Linked DNA regions of Homo sapiens. The protein of the gene in region 2 interacts with the protein of the main gene of each other region in a pairwise test. Each region holds a gene or a part of one and is shown on either strand. Other genes may lie near its edges.

Region 1 (3,802 bases), on a different chromosome or scaffold from region 2:
AGGGCAGGTGCCCAGGCAGCCGCTATGAGCTGACTGCTAGGAGGAGAAAAGAACACCACGTGCTTGGCTGTGTCCTCAAGGGACACTCCTGTCCCACCCCTAGCAGGCATGCTGATGTCCCTGGGCTCTGGGACCCAGTCGGCAGCTGTGCCTGTAAACACACTGTCTGGCCTTCTAACATTTGGGTCAGTGCAGTGAGGGTGGCATGGGGTCCCCGGTGAGCAGGGGCCCCCACACCCCAATGTCTCCAGGGACACAGCCCAGAGCCCTGAAGATGAGGATGGGAAACAGGGCCTGGTGGTGTCTGGTGAGTGTGTCACCTGATCAGCCTTCTCAGAGTGACAGGCCAGCAGGATGCCGTGTCCCTGGCTGACAGAAGGAGGAAGCCACAGGCCAAACCCAGACTCCCTCTGGGTAGAATAGTGAGGGTCTTGAGGAACCCTACGGGGCCTGCCCCAGCCCTGCCATCTCCCCGCTCAGGCCAACGGCACCTCCTCCCAGCATCAGCCTTCTGGTGCAGCTCCGGACTCAGACGCCTTTCCTTGGAAACCGTAGCTAGTGGCCCCCTGCCCCATGGATGGCTCCAGGAACTCACCGGCCCCTCCCAAGGAGACCTGGCTGAGGGCTGAAGCGGAGTGAGGAGAGGGCTCTAGCCTGCACCTCGGCCTGCTCCGCCCCTGGTCCTCCCCGGGCCTGTGTGTGGAAAGGCTCACGGCAGAGCCTCCGTGTGCGTGAGATTGTCCTGGGGGACCTCCCAAGCCCCTCTGAGCTGCTGCTCAGGTCCCAGTCACCAGAGGTCACCCCGGGGTGCTTGCCACCCCCCTGCCAGCACCTCACAGTTCTGGCCCACCAGACAGCAGCTCCCTGTCTCTCGCTGGCTCTGCCCAGCCCCTGGCCCTCGGCCTTGGTGTGTCATCTGGGGAGGGCAGCACTACCTGTCACAGGCAACAGTGGGGGTCAAGAGAGAATGCACACAGCTCGGTGACCGGCACTGGGACCTGATGGCGTGGTACCGGACAACACCTGACATCATATCCCCCTGGGGCCGGCGACGGATGCTGGGCTGTAAAAACCTGAGGGAAACTTGTCTGAGGCCTGCCTAAGGCTCAGGGACCTAGCCGAGGGACACTGTAAAGAGAGGCTGAGTCACCCTGAAACCCAGTGGGTGGGAGCAGCTTTCTGACTTCAGCTTTCCGCTCCAATACAGAAGCCAAACGTAAAACGCATCACAGAAGGCTGCTCGCTCTCTACAGAGCCCAGGCTCCTGCGACAGTGCGGGGCCCACGCTGCTGTGCCCTTCTCCGTCCTACAGAGGTGGGGACCCATGCCCGAGGACAGGAGCCGGTGGGGCGTGTGCTGGCTGAGCCAGAGGTGAGAGCCCAGGACTTCTCAAGTCATGAGCTCGGACCATGAGCCCCATCAAGGGAGGTGGAACGCAAGGGCCTCGTGTCCGTGTCCGTGACCCTCCTGCCCTCGGGCCTGCCCTCCAGCTCCAGGTGGGTGGACCCAACCCTGATCCCCAGCGCACAGACAAAGCATCAAGATGACAGGAGGCCAGCCCGGGGTGTGGGTGGGCCACACTCCTGATCCTGGGCATGGCAGCCCACAGAGGCGGCCTCAGACCGGGACGACACGCGGTGCCTGCCCACCAGGATGCTCCCTGGCCTCAGAAAGTGGAGGCTGGGAACCAACCAGTGCTGAGCCCCGCAAAGGCCGGCCCATCTCTCCAGAAACCCTCCCTGCCGGCCTGTGCCCTGCTACTCACTGATGGGAAAATCGTGCCTCAAGCAGGAGGAGGGAGAACCAGACCTCCAGGTCAGCCGCAAGCCTTGGGCATCCAGGGTCCCTGTCCACGCCCAGCCCCTGACAGTCAGGTGAACACAGGGCCAGGCCCGGGAGGGGCGTGGCTGGTGGCAGCTGAGGAGGAAGGTGGGCTGGTCCCAAGGGGGTGCAGGGCAGCCCCAACTTTAACCAGCTACAGTGCCCAGCACATGCGGGCACTTCCTGGGTGCAAGGCCCTTTGGACACCCATCACGTTTAATCCTCCTAACGCCCTGCCTGATGGACAAGGAAACAGCCTGAGAGGAACTCGCCCAGGTCAGGAGCCAGGACGTGGCAGCCAGAACAGGGATTTGAACCCTGGCCTGTTGGGACCCACCCAGGCCTGGCGCTGCCTCTGCCATGGTCTCAGGCTTGGAGCAGAGTCCAGCCCCTTGTGGCACAGATGTGGAGGAGGGGCCAGAGACAGGAAGGATTTCCTCAGGTCACACAGCAAATTCGCAGGGGAGGGTGGCAGGGCCAGCTTTCTAGCACCTGCATCTCCGAGAGGTTTGTGGACGTGCCCTGGGCAAAAGGCCTACAAGACACCAGGCCAGGGAAGTGCCATGCTGAAGGTGCCAGGTGACGCACCCGAGGAGCCCAGGGCACTTGGAAGGGTCAGGCCGCTCCCCTGGCACCTAATCAGAAAACCTCATTGTGGCAGCTGCTACCTGTCCACTGTGCCAAGTGCTGTGCAGGCTGCTCCTCAGGTCTCTTGTCTAACTCGAGGGTCCTCACCAGAACCCTAACAGGAGAGCTGGCATCATGTCCATTTTACAGATGAGGAAACTGAGGCTCAGGAGCACGTCTACATCTGCTAGGGGGCTGAGCTGGCATCCCAGCATAGCTCTCTTCTCTCCAGAGCCCAGGCTCCCTGCCCCTCGGTTGAGATGGACAAAAGTCTCCAGGAATGACTACAGGGGAGGCTGCCAAAGCATGCAAGCTTCCCCATGGAGGAAAACGCCAAAACCCTCCAACGCAGGTGTCCTGCCCCGCCCGCCAAGCCACTGTTGGGCTGCCATCCCACTGCCTCCCCCGCCCGTGGGCAGCCAAGGTGTGCGGAACTGGGAGAATTGGGTCTGCTCAAAGCTCAGCTTGTCCTGCATGAGGCTGCATGCATCAGTGTCTGCCCCTTAACAATCAAATGGGGAACACTGCTCTGCTGTTGCTGTATATCTGGGAACACAGTGATTCTGGGCCTGCAAGGCTGGAAGTCCAACCCTGGGACTGGGTGGCCACAGCATGGTGGCACCACGCCATGGGAGCCATCTGGGCGGCCAACCAGCAGCTCTTGGGAACCAGTCCTTGACTGCCTGGGTGCAGCTTCCTGAAACCGCTCCACTGGCTCGTTCAGAGCCTGCCTGCAGAGGGCCAGTGATAAATCTCCCCACTCTTTTCTCATTGGCAACGCAGACAGGTCCTGGAAATGCCCAATTTCCAGGTTAAGAATCAGACCCCAGCTCTGGCAACGAGCAGCTTGATATCTCCCAGGGCCATTCCTGAGCCTCCCGGGAAACAGGCCAGCATGCCTGAGCATCCCCCGCCTGGAGAAGGAACAAAGACCCAGGACCAGCCAGCCTGGTCCCCCTCTTCTGGGGGACCCTCCCGAGTAGAGCAAGAGGGGAACCTGAGGGTCCTGGGGGCTGCCCCTTCAGAGTCACCCAGGAAGCTCTCCTGGAAGACCACAGTCTGTACACATGCATGCAGGGACACACACCCACACAGGGACAGGCCCTTTGCCTTGGGGTCTTCAGTGTCAAAGTGCTCATGAGCCCTGGGGATTAAACCGAAGACCTGCACACAGTGTGATCAAGAGATCAAACAGTGGGAAGACGCGGGAGGCTGAAGGGAGATGCTCCCTGTGAATACAGAGAAGCCCTCTTCACTCCAGCCCACCTGCAACTGCCCTCAGGCCTTGGGTCAGAATCCTGGCCCTGCCACTGACCAGCTTGGTCACTCTGTGCAATCTAATTCACCTCTGTTG
Region 2 (3,802 bases):
CACTACAGGCATGCGGTGCAGCCTCCCCAGTTAGCCAGGGACAGCACCCTGTCTCCGTGAACCCTGGTCCCACCTCATGACACGTTCTGGTTCACACAGCTGGGCCACTCTGCTCTGCACGGAAGAGCCTTCGCTTCCCTGAAGGGCTAGCCTGCCCCAGCGCACGCCTCTTAGCGGCCGGGCCAGCCCCGAGGCCAGAGTTGATGAGAGCTGGCCGGTGGGTTTCATTCTGCTGCTTGCCTCGGCCGCCTGGCATTCTGGCCCAGTCTTTCTGACGTGGGGACACTCTTGGCCTAAATCCTGTCTTTGCAACCAAAAAGCAGTGTGCCCAGCGGTCACCTCACTTGCTTCCTTCTCTCACCCAGGGTCCCAGAGCTGGGAGGGCAGGGGTGGGATGAATGAAGCGTGGCCTGCCCTGCGGAGAGGGATGAGGGTGGGGCGGGGAAGTTCCTCAGCCCCAGTGCGGCAGCTCGTTCCGGGGCGCTGCCTGTGTGGTCTACGCCAGCAGGTAAGTGAGAGGGTGACAGATTCCTGCTCCAGAAGGATCTGGGGCTGTGTAAGAACCGTCTCAGCAAGACAGTTCGGATCATGGTACACTTGAGAGGTGGTGACTGAGGGTCTTTGGGAAATGAAGATGGGGCAGATCTGAGATTACAGTGATTTTTTTTAAAAAAGAACTTCTAGGTGTCTGTGTCCTTGCAATATGTATCTGCAATGGTAATGCAGTGGGTATCTTCTTCCTGCTCTGTTTATCCGAGTGCCCGATGACTGTCCTCAGGTGCTAGGGTGGGGTGTCCTGTTACAGCCGGACAGGAATGAGCAGCCGCTGCTGGTGGGGAGCCCCCGATGGACTTGGGGTTTCCGGATCGTGTATACAGACAGGCCTAGAGACTGGTGTCCATGTTGAGTTCTTGTCTAAACCTGTGGGGTTTGAATCCTGCTGACAGTGACCCTGACTCCACCTCTTCCTGGTCTCCCAGAACCTCCCGGTGGCCAGCCTCCTCCGAGGTCAGTTTCTCGCTGTGTCCTGGTCCGTCCTGCTCGTGGCTCACAGGCTCCTCCCCTTCGTTCGCAGCTGCATCTTCCTCCCGTGAGGCTGGCCGAGCTCCACGCTGATCTGAAGATACAGGAGAGGGACGAACTCGCCTGGAAGAAACTAAAGCTTGACGGCTTGGACGAAGATGGGGAGAAGGAAGCGAGACTCATACGCAACCTCAATGGTACGTTTGTTTCTTTCCTAATGCAGGTCGAGTATCCCTCTTCCTAAATGCTTGAGAGCGGCAGTGTTTTGGATGTCGGATTTTGTTTTTGGATTTGGGAATATTTGCATTATGCTTAATCTGGATATCCAAAATGAGCCTTTCCCCGAGCATCCTGAGTGCCCAGAAAGCTTAGGATTTGTGTTGGGGGCTCACCCTCATGAGGGAGGTGGCCACTGGCTTCAGTGTTTGGGGGGGCTAACCCTCATGAGGGATGGTGGCTGCTCGCCTCAGTGCTGTGGGCTACGCCTCTGACTCCTTGGCTTTTGGCCAAGGGGCCCATTGGGCACAGCCTGCGGGGGGCTATCCTCCGAGCACAGATGCGCCCTTGGCCGTGGTCTCAGTTTGCTGTCACAGATGCCATTGGCACGCCAGAGGGAGGGCCAAGGCAGGGGCTCTGGGTGCAGGAAGGGGCCGGAGGACAGCAGGAGGCTCTGTCACCCAGAGGAGGAAGCAGGTCTGCCCTAGCATCTTGAAGTTTTGGGGACATACTCCAGATGTCATCAGAATGGACACTTGGTTGTCATGCGCTTAGTGAGTCCTCGTCCCTGTGGGTATTCAAGAAGAGGCAGGACAGTCGCCTGCTTGGTACCAGCATACGGAAGACAGGTGTGTCCTCAGAGCCGGGAGGGTTTTAAATGACAGAGTTGCGACTGTTCCTTTTGGACCCCTCTCCTCCGCCATCCTCCCTCACCACGGGCCCGTCGGCAGGGCACTGGCGGGCAGAGGACGCACACCAGGTGGGCCCGTGGGACTGGGGTTGGGGCTGCTCCGGAGAGTCGAGTGCTCAGCTGCCTGCTGTCAGCTATGTGTAGCAGCCCTAGGAGCTGCTGTGCCTCCACCCAACTGCTGCCCCTGGGCCTGACCCCAGGCACCCCTTCCCCAATCCCCTCCCCCGCTGCTCCCTGTGTGACCTGGGCCCCCGGCACAGTCCCCTGCCCCCCACCTCCGTTTCCTCCTCCTGTCTCACAGGACGGTGGTGTGAACCAAGTGGGATACTCCCCACTGTGGTGGGGGTGGGGGTGGCTGCCATCGCACTTGTTGCTGTCGTGAGGGTGGCCCCAGAGCCCTGGCCATGTCTGGAGTCTGCTGTAGCCCTGCTTTTCACACGCGCTGATGGCCTCAGGCATTGCAGCGCCCGGGTTGTCTCTGGTAAAGAGAGGAGGTGTCTACGGAGTTCCTTCGTTAGGCCTGATGCTCTAACACCTACTCCTCAAAACTCGTTGTCGTCCCATTTGACAGGCTCAGAGAGGGTGATTTGTCTGGAGTTGCAGAGCCGAGTAGTGCAGCAAAGATTTGGAGTCAGGGTTTTCTGACTCCTGAGCAGGTGGTCTGTTCCCAGCCACCCCTCTTCTCCCATTGGCAGGCATCAGCAGACATGTCATGTGGCTGCGCCCGGGTTAAAGACAGAGGGCCGGCTTCATTTTTGCTGGTTTATGCCACCATGTTCAAGAGTCTGGTTGAGACGTAAGCCAAGATACGGCGGCAGGGACTGCCTGGGGAAGAGAGACATGGCTGAAACAATTCTGGATGGTTGCGTCCCCACCAGCGTGTCTAGTGGGCCATTCCCAAGGGCCAAGAAAGAGCCTGTCCTGGAGGTGCCCCCAGGAAGAAGGGACTGGCTATGCAGCAGGGCAGCATTCGGGGCCTGGAGGAGACAGAGTAGCTTGCAGGGGGCACAGAAGTGGGCTAAGAACCAGCTCCCTCCTGCAGGCCAGGCAGTGTCCTTGCAGGGTGTCCAGGTCTGTGGCCCAAGTGGAGCTGTCTTGTTTTCTGCCATTGCCTAGTGACCTGGCAGAAAACTTAGTGGGACTCTAGGAGCCGGCGTCCCAGAAGCAGACCCTGCCCACACTCAGGAAAGAGGCTCGTCCTGGCCAGTTCCCCGCCATCTTCTGGGTGTGGTCCCTGGACCCCCGAGGTCCCCCGTGCCATTATCAAGTGTGATACCATACCTGGGGGACCAGCCATAGCCAGGTGTGCCTGCCCTTGGCACCCTCCATGCTGAGGTCCACCCTGAGACAGACGGGCCACGCTCCACTCTGCCCTGCCCTGCTCTGCTCTGGGGTTCGCTCCTGTCCTCACCCCCACCGCGCCCCCAGGGCCACTTCACTCCCCAGGCAGGGAGTGTGGGGCGGCGTCCGTCCTCCCCAGGCAGGGGGTGTGGGGCGGCGTCTGTCCTCCCCAGGCAGGGGGTGTGGGGCGGCGTCCGTCCTCCCCAGGCAGGGGGTGTGGGGCGGCGTCTGTCCTCCCCAGGCAGGGGGTGTGGGGCGGCGTCCGACTTCCCCAGGCAGGGAGTGTGGGGTGGCGTCTGTCCTCCCCGGGCAGGGCGTGTGGGATGACGTCCGTCCTCCCCAGGCAGGGAGTGTGGGGCCGTGTTCATCCTCCCCAGGAGCTCTAAGGGCTCGGTGCTCCTGAGGCCGCCTCCAGCTTCAGTGCTCTGTGACTCCATTCCATGCAGAAGAACCCAGCACCTCCAGAATCCAGAACCTTCCATAGTCCCTGCTGCTGATCGCAGCCGTGGGTACTCTGCCTTTTGATGGGGT

What was found.
Region 1: the proteins of LRPAP1 (region 2) and RALGDS interact in a two-hybrid assay, tested with the Homo sapiens proteins (one study listed by BioGRID).

The regions. Positions count from the first base shown.
Region 1 is NC_000009.12:133,114,688-133,118,489, forward strand, and holds part of RALGDS (ral guanine nucleotide dissociation stimulator), read right to left. Parts: intron 1-3,802. UniProt on the Homo sapiens protein: Functions as a guanine nucleotide exchange factor (GEF) activating either RalA or RalB GTPases and plays an important role in intracellular transport. Interacts and acts as an effector molecule for R-Ras, H-Ras, K-Ras, and Rap.
Region 2 is NC_000004.12:3,522,325-3,526,126, reverse strand, and holds part of LRPAP1 (alpha-2-macroglobulin receptor-associated protein precursor), read left to right. Parts: intron 1-1,075; coding exon 1,076-1,220; intron 1,221-3,802. UniProt on the Homo sapiens protein: Molecular chaperone for LDL receptor-related proteins that may regulate their ligand binding activity along the secretory pathway.